Regions from separate parts of the Homo sapiens genome. Here regions 1, 2 and 4 are each linked to region 3. The links come from fine-mapping of genetic effects on gene expression. A gene starts in region 3. Each other region holds a variant in brackets. All regions are shown on one strand. Distances are between the middles of the regions.

Region 1 (8,106 bases), 100 kb after region 3:
CCCAGCCTCTGGTAACCATCCCACTACTCTCTATGTCCATGAGTTCAATTGATTTGATTTTTAGATCCCACAAATAAGTGAGAACATACAATGTTTGTCTTTCTGTGCCTGACTTATTTCACTTAACATAATGATCTCCAGTTCCATCCATGTTGTTGCAAATGACTGGATCCTATTCTTTTTCATGGCTGAGTAGTACTCCATTGTGTATACATACCACGTTTTCTTTATCCATTCATCTGTCGATGGTCACTTAGGTTGCTTCCAAATCTTAGCTATTGTTAACAGTGTTGCAACAAATATAGGAGTGCAGACATCTCTTCTATATACCGATTTCCTTTCTTTTGGGTATATACCCAGCAGTGGGGTTGCTGGACCATATGGAAGCTCAATTTTTAGTTTTTTGAGGAAACTCCAAACTGCTCTCCATAGTGGCTGTACTAATTTACATTCCCACTTACAGTGTACAAGGTTCCCTTTTTTCCACATTCTTGTCAGCATTTCTTATTGCCTGTCTTTTATAGTAAGCCATTTTAACTGGGATGAGATGATATCTCACTGTAGTTTTGATTTGCATTTCTCTGATGATCTCAGTGATGTTGAGCACCATTTCATATGCCTGTTTGCCATTTGTATTTCTAATTTTGAGAAATGTCTATTCATTATCTTTTGCCCATTTGTAAATTGAATTATTAGATTTTTTCCTATAGCGTTGTTTGAGCTCTGTATGTATTCTGGTTATTAATTCCTTGTCAGATGGGTAGTTTGCAAACATTTTCTCCCATTCTGTGGGTTGTCTCTTCACTTTGTTAACTGTATCCTTTGCTGGATACTTGATGTGATCCCACTTGCCTTGGTTCCTTGTGCTTGTGGAGTATTGCTCAAGAAGTCTTTGTCCAGACCAATGACCTGGAGATGTTTCCTGATGGTTTGTTGTAGTAGTTTCATAGTTTGAGGTCTTAGATTTACATCTTTAATCCATTTTGATTTGATTTTTGTATATGGTGAGACCTAGGGGTCTAGTTTCATTCTTTTGCACATGGATATCCAGCTTTCCCAGCATCATTTATTGAACAGACTGTCTTTTCCCCAGTGCATGTTCTTGGCATCTGTCAAAACTGAGTTCATTGTAGGTGTGTGGATTTGTTTCTTGGTTCTCTATTGTGTTCTATTGGTCTATGTGTCTGTTTTTAGTTTCCTCAAATTTTGGATTCAAATTGTGACTCCTATTTAACTAAGGAATGATGTACAATTCTCAGCACAAATCTAGTGTATTTTACTGATTTACAGGAAGTACTAAAAATAAAATTATTTTTACTAACGGATGGTCTTTATTTCAGTTTATAATATATAGTAGAGTAAATATGAAAGAAATTTCAAAGTAGAGGCCATTCTTTTTCCAGAAGAATCACAGATTGCTGAGGATTTGGGCACCAGCTCTGCTTTCTAAACATTCACATTTCATGAACCTTCCAATAAGGTAGCTAATAGCTATACGTAGCTATTGAGCACATGGAATGGGCCTAGTACAAATTGAGATTATCTCTAAGTGTAAAATACACATTAGATTTCGAAGTCTTTGTATAAAAAATGAATATGTAAAATATTAATTTTTACATTAATTATATTTTGGGATCTTAATGTTTTGGATATATTGGTTTAAAATATATTATTAAAATTAATTTTACTTGTTTCTTTTTACTTTTGTAAATGTAGCTGTTAAAAACTTTTAAATGATAAATATGACTCACATTATATTTCTATAGAATGGCACTGGTCCACACAGCCTTAGTAAAACCTTTCTTTTTCTTTTCTTTTCCTCTCTCTTTTTTTTTTTTTTTTTTTAATATAGAGACAGGATCTCCCTCTGTTGTGCAGGCTGGTCTCAAACTCCTGCCTTCAAGCGATCTTCCTGCCTGGCCTCCCAAAGTGTTGGAATTACAGGCATGAGCCACTGCACCCGCCCAGTAAATCCTTTCTGATACACCCTTAGTACTTCCAACTAAGTACCAGTCATCATTTTCCTTCATTTCATGGGTATGGGGACAAAGAAAATGGCATATTCAGTTCCCAAACTGTCATTTCTGCCAGTCCTACCTAAAAAATTGGTCCATAGCCAAAAAGATGGTCTTACTTCATTTTGACTACGTTTACTATGCTTAAGACAAGGTGTTAGTTATTTCAGTACCCAAAATAAAGCTTTTCAGAATTTGTTCATACTTTTTTTTTAAGAGATGGAGTCTATATCTGTCACGCAGGCAGGAGAGTAGTGGCGCTATCTCGGCTCACTGCAACTTCCGCCTCCCAGGCTCAAGCAATTCTCCTGCCTCAGCCTCCTAAGTAGCTGGAATTACAGGCATGCACCACCATGCCCGGCTAATTTTTGCATTTTAGTATAGACAGGGTTTCACCATGTTGCCCAGGCTGATCTTGAACTTCTGACCTCAGGTGATCCACCCGCCTTGGCCTCCCAAAGTGCTGGGTTTACAGGCGTGAGCCACTGTGCCCGGCCTTGTTCATACTTTTAAGTTCATTTAACTTGATTTGGGGGCACAAAGTTCAGTGGGATGAGAAAGAGAATAGAGAAGGAGAAAAGACAGGGATACCTCGCCCATTTAAATACACTAGGAAATTAAACAATTTTAAATCATCAGATTACGGAGGACTACTTAGATGCTAACATATAATTTAGGTAAAGGTGGATGATAGAGGAAAAGATTCCCCAGGGTAATTACTTGGTTACTGACATATTCACCATGATTCACCAAATCCCACAGTAATTACACTCCTTCTCTTGGGTGTGTTCCTAACAAGAATCTATTAATTTGACTAAACGTCAAATCCACCTCGTACAGGGCACACTGTTGGGGGCACCACATAGAGGTAGCGGCCTCCTGTTTGGCGCTGCTGTCTCTTGCCCATGCTCTATTGTGAAGGGTTGTGGGGGCGACAGAGGACAAAGAAGACGCTGGAGAGGATTTTCCACCGACAGCCTAGGAAGGGATTTCCCTCTCTGCAGGAAGAAGAGGGCAGAGTCTCTTAAATCATCTTCGTGAAGTCCAAAACCCCTGGGAGTTTGAAATACACTTGACCCCATGAGTTTCAGATACAGGGTTGGAATCTTGCTGTGGGCTGCCACAGCTTGGGAGGCAAGGCAAGGAACTGGGCCCTTCATCTACTCACTTACGCTGCTCTGAGCCACTTTCCCAAAGGTTACTTTTTCCCTTCTGTGCTTTATTTGCGTATTCACACAATCATGCCCTAA[C/T]TCGAAGACAACTCAGTGGGTGCTATAATGGTTGCCAGATATGTCTCAGATATTCTGGGATAATGCATGCTGTCTCTCTATGATGTGGGCCAGTCTTTGCAAGTCTATATACAATTATAGTAATTAGATTTACCTTCTCTAAATCTACTAACACAGAAAGAAGATATGTAGAATCTTTTTAGTATAACTGTAAAGAGAAAATGAATTCCATGAATTATGAAAAGAGTAGTGCGTGTAAATATGTGTTCATGTTAAGATTATAACTTATTTTGAGAAACTGTGCAACAATCTAATGTATTAAAAAGTTTATTTATCCTCAAATTTCCTACTAAGAATTATGGTTTAAATTCATTTTCCTGAAAGATTTCAAGGATCTGGGTAGAAATTGGCAATTAAAAATGTAATTAGATGTAATTTACCATAACTAGGACTTAAAAAAAAAACCTACACTGTTTCTTTAACACTTCTAATTATCTGGCTTTGGTGAAAGCATTTATGGTTCCTTTCTTGGAAACCTTTCCTTAGTAACTATTCACATACCACTCCAGATGGGTGTTTCATATTTGTTACTGCTTACTGCCCTTTGTACCTAAATTTCATTTTGCATAAAGCTAGCACATGAGAAAACTAATGAAAAGGATGTATAATTTCTTGTCTCTTAGAAAAATCCCATTTCTTTTCTCCTGAGAGTGAGTGAAATATGTAACTCTATATATAGTTTACAATATGCAGTAATTATATTCAAATGTCTTTCAAATTACTATTTTCTTCTGAGTACTATTGCTCTAGTATAAGTTCAGCACTCTAGTATAGCCAGCTTACATGATACACAAGCCGTAATGTACTTCCCAAATCTTGCATACCACATAGAATTTCTACATGCCAGTCTGTTTGGGACACCCTCATTCCTTCTGCCCCTATGGGACCATCTGAGTCATGACTTGAAAATCCAGATGAGGTTCCCTCATGCTCAGGGTCCCTTGAAAATGCCACGTTCCCCAAAGAAGGTGACACCTGAAGCTACCGCTCCACTTTCAATGGCCAATGACTGTATCCCATTGCTTGGTGTGTGGAGAGCCATATTTCTGAAAGTTCCTTGACTCTGTGACAGGTCTGTCTCATTTTCCCCTTTGAGCTTCCACCTGCAGCCTGAGTTTGCCACTGCTTCCCTGTCTCAATCGGGGTTCTTCCTCCAGCAGTAGATCTGGGAGCAGCTTCAAGAAAGGTTCATCAGACATTTTCTCCTAACACTTAAACCATCTGACACCATCAGATGGGTTTCTGGATAATGAGCTTTTAATTGGCTCATATGTTTTTGAAAATGTCATCTTTTTGCCGTTAAACTTGATTCTCTTACCATTACGTTCTTCTTTTGGGAGTGAATTCAAATGAGGGCTGGTTTAATTGGGTCATCTATCCTAAACCTCCATGAATGACCAGAGAAAAGGCACTCCATGCATAAATAATTTGTTGATGATGTATGAGACCCACGTGCTTTTTTTTTTGTTATTGTAATAGTGTTGTTTTGGTTTTGTTTGTTTCTTTCTTTTTTTCTCTTCTTTTCTGTTTTTTTTTTTTTTTTTTTTTTTTTTTTTTTTTGAGACGCAGTCTCACTCTGTTGTCCAGGCTGGAGTGCAGTGGCGTGATCTCGGCTCACTGTAAACTCCGCCTTCCCGGGTTCAAGTGATTCTCTTGTTTCAGCCTCCCGAGTAGCTGGGATTACAGACGTGGGCCACCACGCCTGGCTAATTTTTGTATTTTTAGTAGAGATGGGGGTTTCGCCATGTTGCCAGGCTGGTCTCAAGCTCTTGGCCTTAAGCAGTCCTCCTGCCTCAGCCTCCCAAAGTGCTGGGATTACAGGCGTGAGCCACCGCACCCGGCCTGTTTCCTTCTTTCTATTAGCTAGTTTTCTTTGTGCCTGAGCTTTACAAGAACATATGAGAAAAGTTCTGCCCTAACTCAGGCACCCTTAGACTGGCCTATCTATACTTTCTTGTGGGTTTTCTTTTGCCACAACAACATCGCGTTCATTCAGCTTGAACAATCGCAATTGCAAACATGGAGCATGTCAGCCGTCGCCCGGGGAGCGCAGTGACCCAAGAACTCAGTTCGACTCTGCTTATCTGGGAGGCCCACTCAGTCTGGCAACAGGAATCCTCTGCGCATTTCTCCTCAACAAAAATCAGCTGTACAGGCTCCTTTATCCATTTATTTTTCTGGATCACAAAGTTGTCTCTAAAGCTCCAAATAATAATTTCTGGAGGATACCTTTTTATGTGGTAATGTTTAATTGGGATATAATTCATATAACATGAAATTCACCATTTTAAAGTGGTTTTTAGTATGGTTAGTTGTTTTTAGTAAATTTGCAATGTTGTACAATCATCACCACTATATGATTCCAGAACATTTCCACCATTCTGAAAAGAACCTCTATACCTGCGAGCAGTCATTTTCCATTCCCTGCTTCCCCCATCCCCTGGAAGCCTCTAGTTTACTTTCTGTCTACGTGGATTGCATATTCTGGATATTTCATATAAAAGGAATCATACAATACTTGGTCTTTTGTGTCTTGCTTTTGTTCCACTTAGGTAACGTTTTCAAAGTTTATCTATGTTGCAGCATGAATCAGTACTTCATTCCTACATGAATAATATTCCATTTATGGCTGGATAGTATTTCATTTATACATACACCATATTTTATTTATCTATTCCCAAGTTGATAGGCATTTGAATTGTTTCTTTTTTTTTTTTTTTTGGCTATTTTGAACTAATGCTGCTATGAACATTTGTGTACAAGTTTCTGTGTGAACATATATTTTCAATTCTCTCATCTATGTACCTAGAAGTGGGATTGCTGGGTCACATGGTAACTCTAGTTTCACTTTTTGAGCAAATGTCAAACTGTTTTCCACAGCACTACCATTTTAAAATCCCAGGAAGAATGTATGAGCATTTCAACTACACAGCATCACTTGTCATTATTTCTGTTTTTAATCACAAGTGTGCAGTAGAATTTTCCATGACATCATTGTTTTATCAGCTCATGGAATGTGTACTTGTGTATTCTCATGTTTCACAACATTCTCAGACTTAATTTATAACATATTTACATCTAATATACATACATATCTCATATATCTAGCTAGCTTGCTAGCTCTCATAAAAACAAAGCCAGAATCTCTTAGGGATTCTCAATAATTTTTGTTTTTAGAGTGTAAAGGGGTCCTTACACCAAAAAGTTAAAAAATGCTCATCTAAAGAGATTAAGCAACATAACTATGTTTTCTGTGACGTGTTTTATTTCTACTATTCTGGAAAGAAAACAAAAGATTTTTTTAAGAGATTGGGTCTCACTATGTTGTCCAGGCTGACCTGGAACTCCTGGGCTCAAATGATCCTCCCAGCTCAGCCTCCCAAGTAGCTGAGACTATAGGTGCACACCACTGTGCCTGGCTATATATATATATATATACATACACACACATATATATACACACACACATATATATATACACACACACACATATATATACACACACATATATATACATACATATGTATATATATATATTAAATTCTAGGGTATACAGTTGCATAGTTGTTTAAAATTCATTAACCTGTAAGAATTGCCCAATTCATAGAATTATGTGAAACTTTTGTAAGATTTGATGCCTTACTGTATTCATGTTATACTTCAATTTAAAAGTAGTTTCAAAACATGGACATTAAATAATTCTGGTGAGGAAAGGAATTAGAAAATAAATAGCTCTGCACTAATCCCAGATAATTGTCCAGGTTAAGATTTTTATAAAAGCATAAGTGATTTTACAAAACCAAATTTTACCTCCCTGCAATTATTATCTCATTCCTAGAGAATCTTTACCTTAGAACTTCCCTCTCAGAAACTAAAGGAGAGAGTATTTCAAGAATGATGGGAAGGTTCTCAAAAATAAAATTCTGCCAGTGTACTGATACATAAACTGGATTGCTATTTAAAAAAACGGAAAAGATTCATGTACAGAATAGAGAAGACAGGACCTGCAGTAAGAAACAAATTCATGAAATTATATTTTTGGTTTTAACCAGCTTGTTCTGTCTGTCTCCTACTCTAACCTGACTTGGACTATGTGACACAGAGCAGCACTTTCCCCAGAAAAAGTAGTTGCTAGAAATAAAGCAAGCTTTAAGTTTTATTTCAGTGACGATCTGGCCCAAACTGATGGTGACTATGTAGAACAGGGCCCTTCCCACCCCTCTAACTTGTTAAATAGTTCTAAGATTGGAGGAGAGAGAGACAAGGAAGAGGAAGAATACAATTAGAAGTAGTGGCTGGGCATGGTGGCTCACGCCTGTAATCCCAGCACCTTGGGAGGCTGAGGCGGGTGGATCACCTGAGGACAGGAGTTCGATATCAGCCTGACCGACATGGAGAAACCCCGTCTCTACTAAAAATACAAAATTAGCCGGGCGTAGTGGTGCACGCCTGTAATCCCAGCTACTCAGGAGGCTGAGGCAGGAGAATTGCTGGAACCCGGGAGGTGGAGGTTACACTGAGCACAGATCGTGCCACTGCACTCCAGCCTGGTGACAGAGGCAGACTCTGTCTAAAAAAAAAAAAAATAGACGTAGTGTATGGACCATGTGCTCTGCCCCCATCTCCATCCTCCAGAAGAAATTGGGAGTGCCCAGTGAAATCTTTTTTAAAATTTGAGGATCTGAAGGAGAGAAGACCTGGGTTATAGCCTAGGGTAAGAAATAGCCAGCCTTGAGAGAATGCTTACCCCTGCTCCATGCCATTCTGGTGTAGAAATGATGACAACGTATATACTCCTCAAC
Region 2 (8,106 bases), 160 kb after region 3:
TCAAACAACAGGGCCAATATTTTGTATTTTGTGTGTAGGTACATTGGGGAGTTTACTGTATTTAACCTTCTTTCTTCATCTGCCTTGAGGGGATTTAAATTGTTGCCAAAGAAATGAATGCCAAAAACAAGAAAACATTAGCAGTCAAATTCTAACATTCAAAATAGAACTTTTCATTACAAAATCAGCTTGAGAGCCAGGCACTATTGAGATATGATGTGAAGGAAAGAACGGGCTAGGCTTGGCTGTCCAGACCACAGAGCTTCACAGTACAGCCAATCAGGGAGAAGAGGAGGAAAGCCCCTTTCTCTTCCAAGGGATTGTGGGAATAAGACGGTTGGCAGAGATGGTTGTATGTGTGATGGACTTGAGAAATATTGGAGGATGGAGGACTTAGGAGTTTGGCAGGGGGTCCTGGGACAACCTTGGTATCCCAGGATAAAGCAAAGGGCAGAGCAGCCAGTTCGGGCAGAGGAAGGTTCCAATCTGCCCTCCTAGGCTTCCCACACCCAAGTCATACAGCAGGGATGCTAAGTTAGGGACAGCATCATTGCAGGAGTGCTGGGAGTAGACCACCTGAAATAGGGGGAAGAATGGAGAACATACAGCGTCATGGAGGAGTCTACACCTTGGGGGACTAAATAAGCAAGAAGATGATTCCTGAGTTGAGAAAGAGCTAAGTGTGAGTCAGTGGTGGTAGGCCCCAGTAGAATGCAGGAACATCCTCTCTCAGCTGGGGAAACAGAGGGTGAGAGAGTGTGGCATGGATCGAAGGACCCTGTGATCCTCCATCAGAGGTAGGCCATCCTCCCTCCTTGTCTCTGTAAACCCCAGAGGGTAGAATTGGGGGCATGCAAGTAAACAAACTTCCCAAAGACTGGATGTTGTCAATGAGATGCTTAAATTATTGGAACAAACTCAGTTTGCAAAGCCAAAGTAAGTTTGGTTACTTTATCTCTCAGAGAAAGAGGGATGGAGGTGGTAGTTGTCAATTCATGAGGAAGCCCAGAACAACTACAAACAAGTTAAAGGGACTACACTCTTCCTACATGACTGAGTTATGGTAGTACTTAGAAAAAAAAAAAGGTCTTGCTGTATATAAAAACTGTTAACAATTATCAGAGGAGTGTGCACCAGAGCAACTCCATCTTGAATAGGGGCTGTGTAAAATAAGGCTGAGACCTACAGGGCTGCATTCCCAGACGGTTAAGGCATTCTAAGTCACAGGATGAGATGGGAGGTTGGCACAAGATACAGGTCATAAAGACCTTGCTGATAAAACAGGTTGCAGTAAAGAGGCTGGCCAAAACCCGCCAAAACCAAGATGGTAATAAGAGTGACCTCTGGTTGTCCTCACTGCTACACTACCATCAGCACCACGACAGTTTACAAATGCCATGGAAATGTCAGGAAGTTACCCCATACGGTCTGAAAAGGGGAGGTGCTAATCCACCCCTTGTTTAGCATATAATCAAGAAATAACCATAAAAATGGGCAATTAGCAGCCCTCAGGGCTGCTCTGTCTATGGAGTAGCCATTCTTTTATTCCTTTACTTTCTTAATAAACTTTCCTTTCACTTTACCCTATGGACTTGCCCTGAATTCCTTCTTGCACGAGATCCAAGAACCCTCTCTTGGGGTCTGGACTGAGACCTTTTCCGGTAACATAATGAAGCACGGAAAGGTTTGTAGTAGAATAACAACACTGCTTCCTATATGTCAGACGCTGTCCTCAGCAGGTTATAGCTATTAATTTATTTAAGGCTTACAACATCCCTATGACAGGTGCTATTATTATCACAGTTTAGCAGATGAGGAAACTGAGACACAGAGAGGTTACGTAACCAGGCTCCAGATCACATAGCTGATAAATAACCGAGGTGGGATTGAACCTAGGTAGCCTGGCTCTCAAGTTCATGCCCTTAACCTCCGTGCTACACATTGCATGGAGGCAATACAAAGATGAGAAGACCCACTCTGCCATTTGCAGAGGAAGCGCTGTTGGGGGTTTGGCCTCAGAGGTGGGGAAGGGAAGCAAAAGGGTGAGAAACAGGAGCAAAGGCACTGAAGCCTCAAGGCACACACATGCAGGGAAGAGCAAGGCAGTAGACTCCTAACGTGCAAAGGGATTCGTCTGCAGGGCTGCTAGAATATTCTATCCGTGAATACCACTATGGCTGCTGCAGCGTAGCACATTTGATACCCAAGATTTCTTTGTTCTGGCTGAGAACCAAAAGTTCCTAACACTTCCATGCTTTGACTTAACTTCCACTTCATGATCATTTTGTAAAAAGAAACACCTTTTATTACTTTATGAGAATGCCCTAACGATGAATATGAAACAATAAGGCTCAGTCCATTGAGAAGGCTTGAAGCCAGCGAGGCTCACTCACTAGCTGGGTGACTCACAGCTCATACCCCTCATACGTCTGTAATATGAATTCATGCCTCAGCAGAGCGGCTCACAGATAGACAACACCAGGAAAGTGAAATCTGGGAATGTGAGGAGCCTACCATGTCCTGCGGGCTGGACCACACGGTATGGAGGAGAAGAGGAGGAACGGAAGCTGGCAGGTCAGCAGAGGCTGAGTTCTGACAGGCCTCGCATGCCCAGCTCAGGAAGACATGGGAGTCAGAGGAAAACGGGGGCCAAGAAAGGACCTGTACAGCATGGTCATTCTCTCGATCTAATGATTCCGGATAGTTTTTCTTTCTTTGAATATTTTCCTCACATTTATTGGCTTCACATTTGTGTTTCTTATTTTCTGAATTTTCAATTTTGCCTTTGTTCATTGAATATTCATATGTTAAAACACCTTTAAAGATGCTTTTGTATTAAAATATTAACCGATATACCGTGAAAGTTATTGGAATTAAAATGGAGTGACGAATGTTAAGAAAATCCTGAGAAAGGCCGGGCATGGTGGCGCACGTCTGTAATCTCAGCACTTCGGGAGGCCAAGGCGGGTGGATCACCTGAGGTCAGGAGTTCGAGACCAGCCTGGCCAACATGGCGAAATCCCATCTCTACTAAAAATACAAAATTAGCCAGGTGTAGTGGGGCACACCTGTAATCCTAGCTACTTTGAAGGCTGAGGCAGGAGAATCACTTGAACCTGGGAGGCGGAGGTTGCAGTGAGCTGAGACCGCACCAATGCATTTCAGCCTGGGCAACAAGAGGAAAACCCCATCTCAAAAAAAAAAAAAAAAAAAAAAAAGAAAAAGAAAACAAAATCCTGAGAAACAGAGCCAGGGGAGGCCCTGGAAAGTGGGTTCTCATGCTTCAGTGTGTGATAACAAAAAAGACTACAAAAACCACAACCTTGCACAAAGGCCATCACAATCTTACACACAAAAAAATACTCCTGCAAGAACATCTGCCCAGCAACTGGCCTCTCCAAACTCAGACTGGCGTCACCCTTGTTATTGATCTTTGTAGCCAAGGATAATGATTTCAAAACAATTATGTAATCCTCCTCATTTTTCTCTTTGGAAACCTTTGTCTTTCTTTACCTCCCTGAAAATGCACATAGTTCACTATGACATGCCTATTCCCATTGCAAAGCTCTATTCTTAAGTAACATCTCCTCTTTTAGAGAGGCTCTGCGATTTAGGTTGACAATATGTTGTGAATATTTTGCTCATTGTGGTGTGTTATTTACTTCTGAAACTTATTTAAACTGCTTTTTATATGAAAAGTTAAAAAAAATTATGTGGCCAAGTCTATATACTTTCCTTCATGGTTTCCTTCTGGTTTCTTATATTATTATTTTCTGAGCAGAAAAGCAAACCTATGGTTTTTTATGTCTGCCTCATGGTTCCATTACAGCTTAGAGGTTAAGAACTCAGGTTCTAAGTCCAATGAAGGTGAGGTTGAATCCTGGTTCTGCTCTCCACTGACTGTGAGCCATTTTTCTTCCTATAGTTTCCTCTCCAATTTTGAGCCAGGCACTCAATAAACCAATGAGAGACATAGTCTCTCCATTATGCAGATGGAAAAATTAGTATTTAGAGAGGTGAAGTTAATTGTGCGGTAAGTGGGAGTTAAAATTGGACACGAGTTTTCCTGTTTTTAGAGGCTGGGCTCTTACCAGTTACACTTATTCTATACTCCCTCACATGGGACTTGATTGTTACAGTCCTTTACTATCTTGTAGAATAAGTTTTGCTAGCATTTTGCTTGGGGTGTTCACATTTATGGTCAGAAGTGAGAAGATAGTACAGTTTGTAGGAAGTCTGCAGGTAGTTTGAACAGTTTATAGGTAGTTTGAACAGTTTGTAAGTAGTTTGAACAATCTCTGGGCTCTGGCTAATATTCAGAACCTGGTGATGTCATCTGAAGCCTTAGTTATCATATTTGGCCCATGTCAAACACCACACTGGACTACATGCCCTGGCTTGGCACACAGTCTCTCTAACGAGACTTACAAAGAAAAGGGGGCTGAAGAGAGAAGAGAGCAGACTGGCTTAATCAACAGTATTTAGTAGTTACCCTCTCTGTGAGGAACAAAAGTATGCACTGTAAACGGACACTAAGAAGATTCTGCTCCCCTGGGCTGCTTAAAGCAGGAACAATGATGTCAGGCGATGGTGTGAGTTCAGTTCAGAGCATGTTTTTAAATTAGCATTTAAGTTGATTAGAAACAGCTGGAAAATCAGAACG[C/A]TTGCATAACCTCTGCAATGATGCAGAGGGAAAGAATGCCCACTGCACAACCACAAGTTACCATCCTGAGTTGTTTTAGACAGGGAGATAATTCGCAGTCATTGCAAATTATTTTGCAAGCCCCGAACTTTTGGTCCCTTAAGTGTTCATCTTTATGTCTGTTCAGATAATATTGCTGCTCACTGCTGACTAGAGTCACAGCACTAAATACAAAATTAACACCCATTTCGTCTTTACGAAGTGTTTTTTAAAAGTATTTAAATCAGTAAGAGATTCTTAACAATCAAATATAATTCTTTTCATTATTAAGTCATGGGCAGATGAAATAGAATATTCTCCAGAGAGTTGAGGAGTCAGATGTAAATCTCAGCCCTGAACATATAGGAAGAAATGTAAGTCTGGGTGAGCAGCACTGATCCTGGGTCTGCTGCATCCTGATTTGCCTCCATCCTGGTGGCAGTGACGGTGGCCTATGCCCAGCCACCAAGCTCCATCCCCAAGGCCAAGCTCCACTTCCTAGGCCAGGCTCCATTTCCCCAAAGCCAGACTCCACCCCCAAAACCAAGCTCCACCCCCAAGGCCAAGCTCCACTTCCTAGGCCAGGCTCCAGTCTCCCAAGGCCAGGCTCCACCCCCAAAACCAAGCTCCACTCCCAAGGCCAGGTTCCATTCTCCCAAGGCCAGGCTCCACCCCCAAAACCAAGCTCCACTCCCAAGGCCAGGTTCCACCCCCATTCCCTGGAGCCCCGCCTCCCCAGCCTGCCTGGGCAATTGTCCAAACTCTAGCCTCAGATCCTTGATTGAGTCTAGTGTTAGTTTCACTGAGAAATTGGAATATTTTGCTGGTCTTTTCTGTTCTTCATTTGTGTAGTGCAAAAAATAATCAAAATGCTAGGTGTCAACCCTACAGAGCCACTGTCAGAATAAATAGAGGAACCTCTGATTTGTTTCAAATAAAACAATTTGCCTTTAAATGAAAATGATTACTGCTTAAGTATAAAATGGGAGAATACAGAAAAAAGGCAGTAAAATAACAGAAAAAGGCCGGGCACAGCGGCTCACACCTGTAATCCCAGCACTTTGGGAGACCGAGGCAGGCGGATCAATTGAGGTCAGGAGTTTGAGACCAGCCTGGGCTACATGTTGAAACTCTGTCCCTACCAAAAATACAAAAAGGAAAAATTATCTGGGCATGATGGAGATTGCTTGTAGTCCCAACTACTCAGGAGGCTGAGGCAGGAGAATCACTTGAACCTGGGAGGCAGAGGTTGCAGTGACCCGTAATTGGGCCATTGCACTCCAGCCTTGGCCAACGTGGGAGCCTCCTGCTCCGGGAAAGGAAGGGAAGGGGAGGAAAGGGGAGGGGGAGGGGAAGGGGAGAGGAGAGGGAGGGGAGGGGGAGGGGAAGGGGAGGGAACGGGGATGGGGAGGGGACGGGGAGGGGGGAGAAGGGACGGGAGGGGAGAGGGGGAGGGGACGGGGAGGGGAGGGAATCTATAATCCCACTGCCTCTAAACAACCACTATTAACATATTGTCATGTTTTATGCCTTTACCCTGGCATAAAGTAGTTTGTTCTGTGTCTCTCTTCTCTCTTTATGCCATTCTTTCTCTGTCTCTTTTTTGTCTCCTCTCCCCATATGTTCTGCAAGAAGTCTTTATCTTTCAACCAGAGGCCACTGAGTTAATTTTCACTCACAGAGAGGCCAGAGAGGTAAAAGGGGAAGTACGTACAGCAGGATCCACATTCCTGAAAAGTCCATATCTGGCCGTGGCCTTGCATCTCCACAGGCCCTCCCAGACCCCACCAGACCTAGAATCTCCATCAAGTTACTTCTGTTAAAAGAAAAACCTTAGACAAATTAAATTTAACACAGGTTAATTGAGCAAAGAATGATTCACAAATCGGGCAGCCCCCAAACAAGAACAGGTTCAGAGAGGCTTCATCACAGCCACATGGTCCCAGAAAATTCATGGACAGGAAAAGGAAAGCGATGGAAGGAAAAAGGAAGTGAGGTACAGAAACAGGCGGATTGGCTACAGCTTGCCATTTGCCTTATTGGAACACAGTTTGAACAGTTGGCTACCTCTGGCCGAAACTGTGACTGGCACAAGAGGAGGGTACAGGCTCTTTACACATCCAGTTAGGTTACAATTCACTATGTACAGAGACACTTTAGGCCAAACTTAAAATATGTAAAGAGGCAGCTTTAGGCTAAACTTAACACTTCTTAATTGCCCACAACTGCCTACGTAGAGGGCCACTGACAATTATCTATGGGCAGCGCTGAAAGCAATGGATGGGACACAGAAGGACATATTTTATAGGCATCACCACTTTCTCCATGGCTTTTGTTTTTTTTTTGAGATGGAGACTTGCTCTATCGCCCAGGCTCAAGTGATGTGGCACGATCTTGGCTCACTGCAACCTCTGCTTCCCGGCTTCAAGTGATTCTCCTGTCTCAGCCTGCCGAGTAGCTGAGAGTACAGGACCATGCCACCACGCGCAGCTAATTTTTCGTATTTTTTTTTTAGTAGAGATGAGGTTTCACCACGTTAGCCAGGCTGGTCTTGATCTCCTGACCTCGTGATCCGCCCGCCTCAGTCTCCCAAAGTGCTGGGATTACAGGTGTGAGCCACTGCGCCCAGCCTTTCCATGGCTTTTTGGCCCAAGATGAGCTCCACAAGTTCTAAGTGTTGTATCCAACCCCACCCCCACTCTGCCAGTATCTCTTAAACTACCCTATCTTGATAGTTGAATTTCTTTTTCTATTGGTGTGGCAGAGATGGTTATAGCTTAGCAAATATTCCATTCGCTAGTCAACCATCCCAGCTCTTCTGTGGTTAGGTAAGACCATGTGACAAAAGCTTTCTTCCCTTCCTGACTTGAGGCCTGTACTCCATCCAGATGGTGCAGCTACAAGACAGCCTGTCAAGGGTCCATGTGGAGCAAAGACTGACCCACATGGGACATGGAGTGTGTGAGGGAGAGAAAGAGACTTCTGTTGAGCTTTTGAGGTGTGCGGTTTGTTTATTATTGAGGTACACTCTAGCATATTTTGACAAATGCAATTGGAGAGGCCCTTAGATGGTGCTATACTCTGATTTTTAAATCTCCCTAAAATATGGATGTGATCATATTATTTTCTTGTTGAAATATCATCAAGAGCTAGCCATTATCTAAATGATGAAACCTAAATGCCTTACCCTTGCAGGTAATCTGGTCCCACCATTAATCTGGTGTTCTGCGTCTAGCCTATATCCTAAATTGCAGCCACATTGACTCCTAAGCTATTTCCCAAACACTGGTTTTCGAATATCCCAGTCCTTTAAATGGTAGTGATAGGTGTGGTACATGCTGTTCTGTCTGCTGAGATGGCCCTGGCTGCGGTTCTCCGCTTGGCATAGTCTCACAGATCCTACAAAACCCAGCTCATATGTGATA
Region 3 (8,106 bases):
TGGTCCTACAGAGATCCTTTTAGACACCCCAGGGGTTTTGTTGTTGTTGTTTAATTACACCATTTCTATCTCTTGAGCCAAACAACAAATCTGGTCCCACTATTAAGCCAACAAATGTATAATGGTCGGTGATGAATTAGTCATCCAATATTCAGATTCCAAGACTCGAATAATCTAAATATTAGAGCCAAAGAGCTCAGTTTCTGCAACACGCAATGCTAACTTTGAGACATAAAAACAGAATGGTGGTTAAGAAAATTGGATGACCTGAGTTTAAAGTCTCAGCTCTGCCACTTACTCACTGTGGGATCTTGAGCAGGTTCCTTAACCTCTCCTGACTTCAGAATGGAAATAATGACACTACTGACCTCATGGGTTGTCATGGGGAATAAGGGAGACAACCCAAGTAAGAACTCAATAAACATTAGCTGTGATTGTAAAAACGCCCCATGCCAGGAAAATATCACTCGAAATAAGCGTTTTCCAAAAGTTAGGACTTGGCCGGGCCTGGTGGCTCATGCCTGTAATTCCAGCACTTTGGGAGGCCAAGGAAGGCAGATCACCTGAGCTCAGGAGTTTGAGACCAGCCTGGGCAACACGATGAAACCCCGTCTATACTAAAAATACAAAAATTAAGCTGGGCGCAGTGGCGTGTACCTGTGGTCCCAGCCACTCGGGAGGCTGAGACAGGAGAATTGCTTGAGTCTGAGAGGCAGGGGTTGCAGTGAGCTGAGATCGCACCATTGCACTCCAGCCTGGGTGACAGAGTGAGATCTTGTGTCAACAACAACAACAGAAAAATCAGGACTTAACAAGAAACTTAGAAAATGCTGCTTTCTCAGAAGACCCGTGTGAAAATACCATGTAAGAAAAGAACACCAGCTTAGGTCAAAATGTTAATTTTCCCAGTTATCCTAAATCCCTAACTCCAATAATAATCTTTTAAAAATATCCTTCAACATGTATAAATTATTCTGATTCATCTCACTGATGTACACTCAGAGGAAAGGGAATTTCAAACCAGATGGCTCAGGAGTGAGTGGTCCTCAAGTAAGCCTCAAGGAGTGAGTGGTCTGCCATGGCCGCAGCCTGACATGCAGGAAGGGGAGAAGAGCGGGCGGATCCCTCACACCACCGGTGTCACCAAGAGAGAAAATGCTCTGCCACCTCTGTGCCCTGATGTGTCAACAAAGTCCCTCCCCACTAGGCACCAACTGGGCCCAAGTTTGTTGACCTTCTGGGCGCAGTGAAAAACCTTTCTTTTGGTAGAGCAAACAAGCACTGCAGGGACATGCACTGTTTTTATATAAATAAGATAGCACACGCAAAGATTCATTATTAATGTTGAGTTATGCCTTATTTTCAAATGAGGCATGGACATTTGGTAATTTGGATTTAAGAATAACTTGTTAACTATATGCTGCAAATTATCCTTTTTCTCCATTGTAAATTGCAACAGCCACTACAACACTACTTAATTTGGAGCTTGTGAAAAATGTCCTTGAAAGATGGTCAACGTAACTCAGAAACACTCTTTGAAAAAATAATGCCACCACTTAAATTCTTTCCAGCAAATCCCTGAGTCTGCATACAATATCACAAACAACACAAGCTGTCAAGATATGGGCACTCCGAACAAATGCTCTGGAGAATTTCACATGGATCCTGTACTCTCCTAAATGAAAGCCAGGCTGGTTTAACTGTAAAAGAACTAGGAAGAACTGAGAGGCAATATTCAAAGTGAAAACACTTCCACTCTTAGCAAAGGGAAGCCAAGGACCTCTGTGCTTGGCCCAGACGGTCCGGGAAGAACCCCTAAATGGTGAGAATCACAACAGCAGTAATTCAAGGTCACACTAGATCCCCAGCCTCCTATAAGCCTGATTCACATACTAAACTCCACAGACTTTGGTCACCAGATTATTTTTTACAGTCTGACCCAACTTCAATCATGTCTGAATTCCTTTCCAAAAATTGGAAACGATCACTATCCATAACTCACCTCCCAATCCAACCCAAACCCAAAGACACTCTTTTCATAATGTCCAAATGACATTACCCCATGTAAACCTCAAACAAACCAGTCTTTAAGCCAAAGCAGATACACATTTTAATATTCACATGGTTTTGCCTCAGCATCTCTTAACCAAGACTGCAATTAACCTATCACCACACTGGTGTCTTAGTTTATGAATAATGCATGACAAATCACACCTGAATTTCTATAAAAGAAAAAAAATCACCTCCAAAAGTAGTAGTACCATGGACATGTTTTTTCAATGTAATGCCACGCTAAATTCCACTCAAATAATTTTCCATCAGGGCTGGCAAACAAATATGTAAATATCAAGGTTTTAGAAAGAGGGCAGAGCCATTGACTGAAAGTACCTTTAAATTTTTCTTTTTCAATGAGCTACTTCCATCTTACTTTATTTTTTTATTTCCAAATTCCCAAGATTTACTAGCCTGTAAGAATTTCCAAGGTTACTCAATTTTTTAAATTACTAGTATCTGATTAAAAGCAGAATTGAATTGCTTAAGTGCAATGTACATAATAAGGTATATGTTATTCTTTGGTCACAAATGAACAGTGTCAACAAAACTTTCTTTAAAGAAAACACACATTAAGATTGGCAAATCAAGCTTCTTATGCTCGCATTTAAAAAAAAAAAAACAACAACAACATTCAACCACGGAATTTGGCCGTAATAAGGTTATTTTAGCTTTGTAGCTCTAATCACTCTCCCACATTCAATGGTCAGGATAAGAGTGCTGATCCATTCACAGAACACACAAACAGATATTTAGAATGTGAAATTAAGAGTACATCACTGAATAAGTAATGCATAAAACGTGTCTAGGCATGGAAATATCAAATGGTAGGGCTAGAAGGCTCTGAAAGAGCATCTACCTAATCCCCTCACCCTACCAGGAAACTGTAGCGACAGAAGTTAAATAATTTGCCCAAGACGGTGGCAAAAACTCACCCAGTCAGTGGCAAAGCCTCTAAGCTAGGTGTCCTACCTACAGATCCAAGTCCCTTTCTTGATACCACTCTACTCCTTTTAGTACAAAAAGCTTCTATTAATGAAATATCTTACAAGACAAATCACTTGTGGATGGATATAAAAAGGTTGTGGAAGGACATCCAGCCAGCCACTAAAAACTGGTTGAAAAGGTGCTAATTTATTTTGCATTTGCTTAACTGGTGATGTTGAGCATGTTGCACTTTTAACTGCTGAAGAGGAATTTCATGACTTTTTGAAAAGAAAACCTCTTGGTTTGTAAATACTCTCAGAAAAGAAAGGATCATTTCTTGGAAAAGGGTAGAAAGTGAATTCCCTTTCCTTTAGCAGGGGACATCCTTTCCCTCACATCTCACAAAAATCCAATCAACCCCTCCCTTTCAAGGTCCAGCATAACTGCCAGCTCCTCTCTGAGAACTTCCAAGCCCGGAGGCCAGAAGCTTCCTCTGAGATCCTCCATGGTAGCCTACGCATAAGTCTCTCCCAGGCAAGCTCTCAAGCACGCTTCTTGAAAGCAGAAATCCTATCCTACTTACCTAGCTACCGGGCTTTGCAAAATCCTTTGCACATACTCAATTACAACGAACGCATTGAGGCATTTGTTGCCAGAATCCCACTTACAGTAATTTTCCAGATCTCCGTCTTCCCTACACCAACACCTGGACCCACTCAAGAGTTATTCTGGAGCGGAAATCCTGGATCCCGCTATCGGGAGAACCAGTGTCTAGAAAATGAAATCGTGGTGCCCATTCCATCCTCTGCCTAGTGGGCGTTTAACATCCTTTGACATCGAGGGGAATGGCAAAACGAAACATTTATTATTTAGGTCACCAACAACATTCTAAACCCACGTCCTCTAATCGGTGTTAATGTGTTTAAAAAAAAAATTCAGAACATCATTCGCCAGAACGGAAAGCTGAAAACGGCGGATAAAGTTAAATGCATGTAAAACAGAATGACTTAAACATCTGTAAAAGCTCCTGGGAATTGCACCGAATAATCTTCCCTTGTCCGTTTGCTCGCTCAATTCAAGTTTGTTTAGTTTAGTCTTTTTTTCTTTCTTTCTGACAGAAACGTGATAGTCCCTAAATACAAGCTGACCGGGCAAAGAAAGATCGGCATACGAGGTCCTCTTTCATGTTGCCTTCTTTTGATAGCTTTTCTCCAAAGTCTGAGGTTTTCAAAGCCGAGGTATGAACTAAAACCCCTAAACCTTAACACCACAAAGTTGACCCTGCTGGGCTCCTAAAAAACACAAAGCAAGCAAGCGCGAAGAGAAAAATCGCACCCTGCACCTATCCAGACAGCACAAACCCAGGTGGCCCCGGGATCCTGGGGGACAGAGCGGCGACAAAGCAACACAAACCCCACGTCGAACAGCGGCGCCGCGTGCGCACCCCGCGCCCGCGCCCCGGCCCCGGAGCTCACCGCTGCGCTCCTTCCTTCCATCTTCCATCGCCAGCCCGGCCGCGCGCCGAAACCGCCGCCGGGCGCTCCGGGGCCGCAGCCTCAGGGCGCGAGTGCCGGCGGCCAGCGCCGCGTGCTCTTTGTTGAGCTCCCGGGACTGCCGAGAGGCGGCGGCCCGCGCGCACCCTGGCGGAGGCTGGCGAGGCTGCGAGCCCGCGGCAGCCGCCCGCCCGGCCCCCAGTAACGTCAAAGCGAAGGCGGCGCAGGCGGGCCGGCGGTGGCGGGCCCCGGGGGCGGAGGGCGGAGGGCGGAGAGGCGGGGCCGACGCCTCGGGGAGGGGGGAGGTGGCTGGGCCTCCGAGGCGGGGGCGGGGTCTCCAGGGCAGGGGCGGGGCCTCCGGGGGAGGCTGGAGGCGATCCAGACCCTCGCAGTGCAGCCCTCGAGCGGCCCGGACCGTCCGCTGCCTCCCGCAGCCGCGCGCCCGCCCTGGGCCCAGCCTCCAGCCCGCGAGCGAAAACCTGCCTGTTGCTTTGTCTTCTTCCTTCACAGTTTTCCCACCCTGAGAAAAGTGAGAGGTGCTTTCCCTGGTGTTTCCTCTCAGGAAGGGCCGTGTGACTGGAGCCGCGAGTTGGGCGCCGTCTCGCCGGGGCTGGAGGTACGCGGGCTTCGGGACACGCACCTAGGCGTCCCTCGGGGTCCCGGCCTCTCTGACCGGGCTCCCCCGGCACCGATCCGCGGCCGGAGCGTTTAGTCCCGGGGACCCGTCGAGCCCTGAAAGGGCCATTTCCCCCTGAGGCGAGTCCCCCCAGGCGCCCCGCAGCCTGGCCTCGGGACTGCCCCCACCGACAGTGCGTGCGCGGGGAGAGGTCACTTAAAACTGCATTTTCGAACATTAGTGCCCCGGACCCGCACCTTTTTTCCTCCGTCCTTTGATCTGTGCCGCAGAGGCAAGGGCTGGAACGGCGCCCTCCCCTGGTAGAGGGACGGAGAGACCGCAAATCTTTCCCCCTGGGAGGTCCGTTAAGTAGATCCAAGCACCTGGAGGCGGAACCTGTGTGGCCGGCTACAGGGTGGTCCTGTGTATGTGTTACCGCCTTATTGTTCCAAAGAACAGTCTTTTTCAAGTGACAGGTAGAAGACGCCCCAATAACGAGAAGTGACTGACTTGGCCAAGCTTAGAGATGGGAGTGGAGTCAGGTTCCCTGGTGGCCCCACGATCTCGCCCACCATGTCAGCATGGGCTGCCCGGTGAGCATAGCTGAGATGCACCAAGGCCACATAAGTCACCTACTTTGCCTTGGCTGCCCCATCTGCATCTATCAAAGGAAGCCTTGGACACCCACCAGAGGAGCCAGCATGAGGGAGTGTATGCCTTTATACAAATTCACTCCAACTTCAGAAAAACGTCCGCAGCTCATGCTCCCCCTGCCAGAGCAGCAGTGTGAGCAGCTGTGTAGGTTTGGAAGCACCCCAGTCACTTGGGCATTGATATGGTTTGGCTGTATCCCCACCCAAATCTCATCTTGAATTGTAAGTCCCGCAGTTCCCAGGTGTGTGGGAGGAACCTTGTGGGAGGTGATTGAATTATGGGGGCGGGTCTTTCCTGGGCTGTTCTCGTCATAGTGAATGAGTCTCACGAGATCTGAAGATTTTAAAAATGGGAGCGCTTGTTGCACAAGCTCTCTCTTGGCCTACTGCCATCCGCTTAAGATGTGACATGCTCCTCCTTGCTTTACGCCATGATTGTGAGGCCTCCCAACCATGTGGAACTGCAAGTCCAATAAACCTCTTTCATTTGTAAACTGCCCAGTCTCCGGTGTGTCTTTATCAGCAGTGTGAAAATGGACGAATACAGGCATATTTCTCGTTTGTGATCTCCCTTTACCCTTGCGTACATACCCTACAGAGACAGTCCCAGTGTGCCTATTCCCAGTCAACTCCTGCCTTCCTTGACGGTTTTGTTGGCAAAGCATCAAAAGTAAGACCCAGTACAAAATGTAGTTGCTACCCTGAGGCTTGACCACTGGCCTACTGGCCTTTACCTGGGAAATTAACCAACTCATAAACAAACAAAAAAAAGTAATCATATAGGAGGCAGGGTGGACATAGATTTACTTGATATTTCTAGTTAAGGGACTTGGGCATAGACATCTATAATCTGAGCCTCTGTTTCCTCATTTATAAAATTGGGTTAATAATGCCATACAGAAGTGTTATTAGCATGATAAATTAAGGAAAGCTCCTGGCCTATAGTGAATGTTCAATAGAGGAGCATTTCATAAGTGAAGCCACAGAAATGTGTTTCCAATTTCCATCGCAAAGGAAATTTTTAATTGGTTTTATCCCTGAAGCCAAAATATTTTAAGATTGTACTTATAAAGCTGATCACATCTATTAAATAATCATTCATTCGTCCAGTTATAAATAATCAAAGATAAAATGGTTAGAGGTTCTGATCAGCATAAATTAGCCAGTGTTACCACTACTAAGTCAATGAAGCCTAAAGCAAATCAAATAAACATTGACATTTCATTTTTGCCAGCATGTATTTTGTGTGTAAATATTTTGTTAGGCTTTTGGAAATATTAAAAATGAAGTAAGAATCCCCATTTCTGCTACCATAGCCCCCAGTGCTCAAGTTCAGTGTCAGAATACACAAGCACCCGCCTTGGTAAAAAAAGAAAGGAGGCACGCAGACCACCTAGGCATGGGCTAGTGTATATTTATCCAATAACATATTCCTCCCCCACCTCTTCCCATGAGCCCTAATGTATGTGGTGTGGAGAGACTATATAGTAGGCAAGACATTATATACTGCAGGTCAAAAGAAGAAAAGGAAGATGAAATTCCATCATGTATTATTCATGCATACAGTTAATCCTTCCTATTTCTGAAGGTCACTGAAAAGCCCAGATTATTGAATATTTATTTTTTAGTACAACATGAACGTTTATTTAGAATGACAAAAATCTCAAATACAAATTTCTAAGAGTTGACAAATCCCACAAACATTACCAAATCCAGAAAAATCACACAATAGTTTTATCTACCACCTACATAATATTTTGTAGTAATAAACTTCCTAAAACACTTCAGTAATATTTGTCTTCACCTGTTTTCTGCTGCTATAAGAGAATACCACAGACTAGGTAATTAATAAAGAAAAGAAATGAATCTCTCACAGTTCTGGAGGCTGGAAGTCCAAGAGCACAGCAACAGCACATGGTGAGGGTGGTTCCATGGTGGAAAGCATCACATAGCAAGCAAGCACAAGAGACGGGAAGCAAATGGGGTCCAAACTTATCCTTTTGTCAGAAGCCCATTCTCTAGATAACTGACTCACTCTCTTAATAACAGCATTCATGAGAGCAGAGCCCTTATGACCCAATCACCTCTTAAAGGCCCCACCTCTTAGTCCTATTACAATGGCAATTAAATTTCAACATGAATGTTGGCAGGGACATTCAAGCCATAGCAATACTTTTTCCTCAAGTATTTTGGCTACATACTTTTTTTTTTTTTTTTTTTTGAGACAGTATCTCACTCCATTGACCAGGCTGGAGTACAGTGGTGCAATCACAGCTCACTGCAGCCTCTACCTCCCAGACTCAAGTAATCCTCCCACCTCAGCCACCCAAGTATCTGGGACTACAGGCACACACCACCAGACCCA
Region 4 (8,106 bases), 510 kb before region 3:
TATCATTTTTTTTTCCTTTTTTGAAACGGAGTCTCACTCTATCTCCCAGGCTGGATTGCAGTGGCACAGTCTCAGCTCACTGCAACCTCTGCCTCCCAGGTTCAAGTGATTCTCCTGCCTCAGTCTCCTGAGTAGCTAGGATTACAGGTGCCTGCCACCACACCTGGGTAATTTTTTGTAATTTTAGTAGAGACAGGGTTTCACTATGTTGGCCAGGCTGGTCTCAAACTCCTGGCCTCAAGTGCCTACCTCGGCCTCCCACAGTGCTGGGATTACAGGCGTGAGCCACCATGCCCGGATACGCTATATAATATCTATTAACCTCCTAGAGAGGGTTCTTCTAAATGTTAGTTTGGGAAATTCTGCCTTATCTCAAAGGATGAGGATTGAGGCTGGCAGGCATTCCCCATGAAGTGCTGAGTCCTGGGTTAGACAAAAAAGCATGCATGCAAGACCCAGGCATCCCCTAGTCCTCAAACTGGGCATCAGACAGAAACCAGCTATGGCGGCAGAGCAGAGAGGGGAGCCAGCCCTCTCCCAGGTCTCCCAGCCAATCCTCGCTTAGCCATACGTCAGCCCAAAGGATAGTTAGCCCTGACTGCTGATTCTGGAATACTAACCTCAAAGGTTTTGGGTTTCAGATTCAGATAAGGAAGAAAAAAGAAACCGAATCATGAAATTCAATGGGAAAACAAGTAAAAATAAATAGATAAGTTTAAACTTTTACAGCATTTACATGATTAAACAAATGATGTTCATTGTAGTTGGTGATATTTTCCATACATAACTTATCAAGTAACAATCCAGTAATCTATAACTTCATTTAAAAGAATTAAATACAGATATATATATACATACATATAATATAGATAGATAGATAGATAGATATAGATAAAGTGAAAAGGTTTATTATGAGAAATAACGTAACAAAAGAGAATGTGCCTGTTGTTTCTTTTCCTCCTCTCTTAGTGTTTTTTTTCCCTGGGAGACCAAGTAACAACATGGGAGTGAGCTGATAGATGCTGATCTGAAGAAGTGGTGACCGTGCCAGTTAGCAATTTGTAAACGCCAGGCGGTGGCAGGTGCTTAATTATAATTGTACAAACTAACAATGTACATATTCCAGTTATTTTTAACTCAGTATCCTGAAATAATTGTAGACTCATAGGAAGTTGCAAAAATAATACAGAGAGGGTCCTGTGTACCCTTCACCATCCTGATTCCTGCAATGCTAACTGTACAGTACAGAATACAGCACATCAGCAAAAAGCTGCTAACTGGTCTATAAATCTTATTAAGATTTTACCACTCTAGGCCCGGCATGGTGGCTCACGGCTGTAATCCCAGCACTTTGGGAGACTGAGGAGGGCAGATCGCCTGAGATCAGGAGTTCGAGACCAGCCTGGCAAAAATGGTGAAACCTTGTCTCTACTGAAAATACAAAAACCAGCCAGGCATGGTGGCAGGTGGCTGTAATCCCAGCTACTCGGGAGGCTGAGGCAAGAGAATCGCTTGAATCCGGGAGGTGGAGGTTGCAGTGAGCCGAGATCACACCACTGCATGACAGAGACTCCGTCTGAAAAAGAAAAAAAAAAAGATTTTACCACTCTAAAGGGGAAATTGGAGTTTTCTTATTCTGATTTGCTTTGGTTTATTTCTCCTTCCTCTTCAGAAATACTCACTTCAGGGACTACAGGTACAATGCCAGACAGACCTGCAAAACTGCATTGTTACCTAAATTTTGACCTTACATCCACAAGGAGTCTTGGGGACAGAATCCAGTTAACTCCACCCAAATTTGGCTCCAGCTTTGTTTATATCTAAATGCCTATGAGCAGCTCAGGAGTTTCCTCAGCTAGAACAGGCGAATTCTGATTATCAGAATAACGATATTCTGGGCTAATATCATTGTAATGACTTGGCTTTTAAGGCAGTTTCCCTGTATATGGGGACACGTGGAGGCTGGAAGGCAAAAAAGGGCCCAATTTTTATCCTTCCCTGAATCACACCCTCTGCAATGTAACTTTCTCCTACCATCAAGGGGTAGCATCTATGGCCCATCTCTTGAATTTGCACTGGCCCTGCAACTTGGGTAGGTCAGTGGTATGTGAAGAAGTAACAGGGAGCCAGGCAGTTCTGAGCCCAGACCTCAAGAGGCTACAACTTCTGTACTTCTTCTTGAAGCCCCGCAGTCCCCATATGAACAAGGCCAGGCCAGCCTGCTGGAGAAGGACCATGAGGAGCAGGGCCGACACAGCCCATCTGAGGCCACCTTCGATCATGCAGCTGACAGCAGATTGCTGAACCAGCCCCGCCGAAAGCAGCCATGCCTAGCCCAGCAATAAACACCTCACCAGCCCATAGACTTGTGAAACTTATTTTGGTAAGTTACTGGTTTTGCGATTTTAGATAACTGGTACAGGCAAAGACTTACTTGAGTGGGGTACAGAAATGTGCAGATGAAAGAGGAATGAGTTTTTAGCTAAGAGCTGGACTAGCCAGGTTGCTCACTGGAGTTCATGTGACTGTCATGAACACCCCAGAACAGCAAATCAGTTGTGAACTAAATGTTTACTGCAGGCTGAAAATAAGAATGAAGTGGGAGGACCCCAGTGGTCCTTAGAGCTAGCTGAAAGGTTTTCTCCAGGGAAGAAAGAAAGTTTATACAAGGGCTTTTACGCTGGCCTTATGCTAGCCCCTGAGAGCCAGGAAGAAAAGAGCGAGCAGGAGACTGCTGAGCTATAAGCAGGGGGAAGCTGCATGGCTCCTTGGGGCTGGGGAAGTTTTCCTAGGGTAAAGGGATTTCCAGCCTAAAGGTAATAAAGCTTTTATCTCTCTTGTCTTGAGGTTTCATGCAAACAACAAATATTTGTTGAATGTCTACTGTTTTCATTGCACTCACCACTGCCCTTCCTCATGTCCTGTGCAGCGATTGGCAAGCAGTTTCTGCCTTCAAGACTCAGTCTAGTGAGGTGCTACCAGAAGTCTAGACAGGGAGCCAGGCTGGGGTAAGGCCCTACTGGTAGTGGCACCGCTGGAGGGGATGCAGAGAAAAGGCAGAGCCCTCTGATTACTTTCACTGACTCTCATGGTCTGAGGGCTGTTGGTAAAGTTCCTATTGAACAGAGAATGCAAAATCCTTTATCGTATGGTCATGCAAATTATTACTTCAATACAGAGCATTCAAACAAGTATCAACAAGGCAAAGCTTCCATGACCAATCACATGGAGGGACCTCCAGGTGTCTGGCTGCAGGGCCCCTTGGGGGAGAGGCAAGCATCCAACACGGACACTGATCCATCAATACAAGCCGGGATCACACCTCCTAGGGAAAGTGAAGGTGCTCTGAGCACATTGAGGAGCAGAAAAGCCTAGTCAGAAAAGACTTCCCATGAAACTGGCATTCAAACACATATCTGAAGGATGAGTTACTTGGGGAAGAGAGGGGATCCTTCAGGAAGGGCACAGAATGAGCAAGACTAAGAGGTGGAGAGGTTGTTAGGAGAATAGCAGGATCAAAAAGTATAGCCGTGAAGCTGGACAGAGAGTTGGGGGAGCCCGGTGGGCTCAGTCAAGAATATTTGGTCTTAGGCCAATCACACCTGTAATCCCAGCACTTTGGGAGGCTGAGACAGGAGGATCACTTGAGCCCAGGAGTTCGAGAGCAGACTGGACAATGTAGTAAGATGCTGTCTCTACAAAAAATAAAAAATTAGCCAGGCCTGATGGCAGGCACTTGTAGTCCCGGCTACTCAAGAGACTGAGACGATGATCACTTGAGCTCAGGAGTTCAGGGCTGCAGTGAGCTATGATAGCACCAATGCAATCCAGCCCAGGAACAGAGCAAGACCTTGTCTCAAAAGAAAAAAATAAAAATAAAAAAATGGTCTTTATTCCAAATGCAGTGGGAAGACTTAGAAGGGGAATCACCATCACGTCAGTTTGAACCATATGAAATTGACATTTTTGCTGGTCAAAAATGACCAACGCTGGCAGTTTTATATGGTTCAACCTAATACAGGTTTGAGCATCCCAAATCCAAAAATCTAAAATGTTCCAAAATACAAAACTTTTTCAGGGCGGACATGATGCTCAAAGGAAATGCACGTTGGAACATTTTGGATTTCAGATTTTCAGATCTGAGATGCTCAGCCAGTAAATACAATGACAATACTCCAAAATCTAAAAGTCCAAAGTCCAAAACACTTCTGGTCCCAAGCATTCTGTTCTATCCTCCATCTGTATTTCGAAAAGAGTCTTCAGCCCGACCCTTCCAAGGTTGACTATTTGTTGTTGGTCTTTTAATTCCAAGGTGATTTTCTCATTTCCTTTCACAGGCAAGTCAAGCCTTGGCACCAACAGAGCAGGGAGTGAGAAGTGTGGGGGCCGAGGCCAGATGGGCCCTGCATCCTACTTTCTGGAGCAGCAGCGACACTGTCATCTTGCTCACCTTTCTTCACAGCCTGCAGTGCCCCACGTGGAGGTGTGGGCTCACCAGGGAGGACTCTCACCTCGGACAGCTGATCCCTGTCCCCTGTGCCCAGGGACATTCTTCTTGCCAGGAGTTGATGAGTTCCCAGTGGAGGTGGAGGACTCCTAAGCTTTTCAAGGGATGGGCTCAAGTAATACAATGCCCCCACACACCCAGCCATCGGCGGCCCCTCATTCTCAGCTTTCAGTTGCTTCTGTGTATGCGAGACCAGAATCCAGGTCACAGCTCAACTGGACATCATGGCACTGACATTGTTCATTTTCATTTTGGCAGCACGCACAGAGCTGTTCAA[G/C]AGAAGGTCACAGTGAGATCATATAAACCAAATTTAGCCATCTGGGTACAAGGAGAGACTTAGGTGATTCGTGTCTGATAAGGAAAACCAGACTTTCACAAAGCATCCTTTAGTGGGAGCCTTTTAGAAACCCCAGAGATGACACCTGTCAAACTTCACAGCACACTTGGGCTTGAGGGGACCGGAGAGTGCACAGGCTCCCTGTGTAGATGAGACCCCGAGGAGATGGTGGTAGTTTTCTCATCTTAGACTAACTCCTACATCCCAGAGTCCCAGAGCACTTTATGTTCTCTGGTCACACGTTGAGGGAGGCAGTTTTAAACTAACTGGAGCAGAGGGGCTGGGGAAGGGCTTAGTTCACTTCCACTCATGGTCTGTGCTCACCTTGAAGTCACACCTGGCACTAAACCATTTTTGTAGAATAGGTGCCCCACTCTGCCACACGTTAATCCTGAAACTAAACAAGAGATTTGGTTGAGTATGGTGGCTCACACCTGCAATCCCAGCACTTTGGGAGGCCAAGGTGAGCAGTTCACCTGAGGTCAGGAGTTGAAGACCAGCCTGGCCAACATGGTGAAACCCCATCTCCACTAAAAATACAAAAATTGTCCAGGCATGGTGGCGGGTACCTGTAATCCCAGCTACTTGGGAGGCTGAGGCAGGAGAATTGCTTGAACCTGGGAGGCGGAGGATGCAGTGAGCCGACGTTGCACTACCACACTCCAGCCTGGGCTACAGAGCAAGACTCCATCTCAAAAACATATAAATAAACAAACAAGAGATTTGGCAGGGGTGGGGTGGAAATCAGGAAATCACACACCGGATAGCAAAATCTCACACAACTTTTCTTTCAATATCTCTCCTCATTTCCTGAAGACCCTTCCACCAAAATCTATCCCATTATTTCTTCCCCCTCTCCCACACAGTTCCTCAGATCACCTCCAACTGCCACCGCCCACTCAGCAAGGCAGAAGCCAGACATGTGGCCTCCTCATCTTCATTCTCCATCCTTGGAAGCCACTTAGTGAGGAATTGAGAGAGATGGGGTGGTATGGGATGGGGACAGGGGGAGTTTGATTTATCAAGTATTCACTCTCCAGTATTGGCCTCTTCTTAGAGGAGAGAATTTAAAATGTCCTATATTACTATTATTTCCCATATTATAATATTATTAGTAGTAGGCCAAAGAAAGCAGACTCAAGGAGACAAAAGGACAAAAATTTCAGTGTACAAACACAATCAAATAAGCATTAAGTGAGAACTGTTCACGGTCCAGGGTGACTTTGAAAATGGCCTCTTCAATGACAGAGGAAAATGAAGTTATCGGGAAAGCCATCACGTGTCACACACCGAGATTCTGTGACTGTTAAATTTTAATACGTTCGGTGCAAGGAAAATTGAAATTTCTGAAGAAAAGAAAAGCCAAAGGGCAAAGAGAAGAGAAATGAAACCAGCCTGGAAGTGGGGGAGTGGAAGCTGGGGGTGACACGAGGCCCTGGCACCATGACCTCTTTCTTGTAAGGGAGATAGACGTGCTCTCAATCACTGTGGGCGCAACCAGGGGGTCATGCCTTTGAAAAATGACAAAAACTACTGAAACTAAGGGGAAAACACAGAGCGAAGGCAGTTAACTCTCAGTTGTTCAAGGGCTGATGCTGAACTTGGGAATGATCTAGACTTTGCCTTTCTTTCTCCTCCTTTCCTGAATGTTGGCAAACTCACTGCTCACAACCACCTTATCCTGATGTTGAACAACCCTGCACCTAGCACATTAGTTAAATATTAGCATCTTTGATTAACGTTCTAGAGAGCCAGGGAAGAGTGTTTAAATTTTCAGTATAGCCATGAATTTTTGACAAATTTGAGAACTGACTCCATAGGAGTGAATGTGCTATTCCCAGGAACCCACACCTTGACAGCCGAAGATCGGCAACGCAGCTATTAAGTTCTGCCTTAAGGAATTCTCACCATCAGCGTGGAAGGAGATGTCCAGAAAAAAATGTGGGGGGATTAGGATCGTGCCAAGAATAAAAAGGAAAATACAGATAACATCTAACTACTTTTGTAGAGGCCCTTCCTCCAAATGTTGCACCACTTTCCCCAATACCCAAAGAAAAAGATTTTACTTGGGGAAAAAAGTCAGCAGCAGCACACACAAAAATGACCACACCACAAGGTGCAAGCATTAAAACCACGAAAAACGTTAATGTATATGATTGAGAACACAACTGAAATAATCAGTAACAAAATATTGATCACCTCGTCCGGGATCTGATAGGTAAATGGTTGAGTGAGTCGCGCCAGCCCTCAAAGAGTTTATAACTGTGTTGTAGGCTGTACAAAAAGACTAACACCCAGGAAGCAAAGAGTATTTAGGACAGAAGGTCATTGCCAACGAAATTGTTTCATGCCAATTGTAAGTTGCTGTAGTCCAGGGGCAGGGGTGGTTGATGGGGTTTTCTAGGCAATAAAGGGCTCAGCTTTGATTGGTGAAAAGAACAAAGGCCGGTCAAGAAAAGAGGGGAAGGAAATTTAAAGTAGAACAGCCGAATAGAACATCAGATGGGGGCTAGATACAGCTCCTCTACTTCTAGACAAGAAGTAATTACCAAGTAAAGAGAAAGCAGATGCTTGCCCGTGGACATACAGAAATTAAACACCCTGCCAGGTGCAGTGGCTCACACCTGTAATCCCAGCACTTTGGGAGGCCAAGGTCGGAGGATCACTTGAGTCCAGGAGATTGAGACCAGTCTGGGCAATGCAGTGAGACCCCTCAAAATTTTTTTCTCAAAAAAAGATTTAATTAGCTGAGTGCAGTGGTGCTGGGACCCCTGTAGTCCCAGCTACTCTGAAGACTGAGGTGGGAAGATTTCCTGAGCCTGGGAGGTCAAGGCACTGTGGGCTGTGATTGCACCACTGCACTCCAGCCTGGGTGACAGATCAAGAGCCTGTCTCAAAAAACAAAAGACAATGAAGAAAATAAATTAAACAACCAGCTAAGTCTCACTCTCCAGAACAATCTTTTTGGAAACTGAGGATGGAGGTGGAAAAGAAAGACCTTTTGTGGCTCTATTTTAGCCTACCCAAGAAAAACAATCTCAGCACTTCAAGTTTCTATTGAAAAGAAGATCGCTGAGTTTGGTTATCCATCCTCAGAAGGAGAGGATGGGACATCATAGTTTTGAGCAATGGTCGCCTCATTGGAAAAACAATTACTGCCATGAAGATCTGCACAACAGGAACTTATGATAATAGCACCTACTACATGGAGTGATTGAGAGGACTGCATGGAGTCATTTCTCTGAACTTTGCATCTTCCTCT

Alleles and levels. Alleles are on the strand shown, and positions count from the first base shown. SD is a standard deviation of normalised expression in the study named. Not every link is listed here.
As copies of T replace C in region 1, the expression in sun-exposed skin of the gene that starts at base 4,595 in region 3 goes down (small effect, 0.39 SD a copy in GTEx).
In carriers of allele G in region 4, the expression in cerebellar hemisphere of the gene that starts at base 4,595 in region 3 tends to be lower than with C alone (moderate effect, 0.43 SD a copy in GTEx).

Evidence for each region.
Region 1: its variant is fine-mapped to the expression of PSD3 in sun-exposed skin (GTEx, PIP above 0.99). The same link has a PIP of 0.9 or more in unexposed skin.
Region 2: its variant is fine-mapped to the expression of PSD3 in fibroblasts (GTEx, PIP above 0.99).
Region 4: its variant is fine-mapped to the expression of PSD3 in cerebellar hemisphere (GTEx, PIP above 0.99). The same link has a PIP of 0.9 or more in cerebellum.

Annotation. Positions count from the first base shown.
Region 1 is chr8:19,113,033-19,121,138 of GRCh38, forward strand. The region is part of intron 2 of LOC105379301 (a long non-coding RNA gene); the gene reads left to right. Among named protein-coding and RNA genes, the nearest start is that of PSD3, 100 kb to the left of the region's middle. The variant C/T (reference allele first, on the strand shown) is at 3,266.
Region 2 is chr8:19,166,611-19,174,716 of GRCh38, forward strand. No RefSeq gene overlaps it. Among named protein-coding and RNA genes, the nearest start is that of SH2D4A, 140 kb to the right of the region's middle. The variant C/A (reference allele first, on the strand shown) is at 4,664.
Region 3 is chr8:19,009,109-19,017,214 of GRCh38, forward strand. It overlaps PSD3 (pleckstrin and Sec7 domain containing 3), which reads right to left and starts at 4,595. Exons shown (of 16, transcript NM_015310.4): 1 at 4,455-4,595. The coding sequence starts at 4,475. LOC124901898 (a long non-coding RNA gene) reads left to right here and starts at 4,895. Exons shown (of 2, transcript XR_007060840.1): 1 at 4,895-5,088. RefSeq lists silencers at 4,479-4,578, 4,649-4,738.
Region 4 is chr8:18,494,225-18,502,330 of GRCh38, forward strand. No RefSeq gene overlaps it. Among named protein-coding and RNA genes, the nearest start is that of NAT2, 110 kb to the left of the region's middle. The variant G/C (reference allele first, on the strand shown) is at 4,785.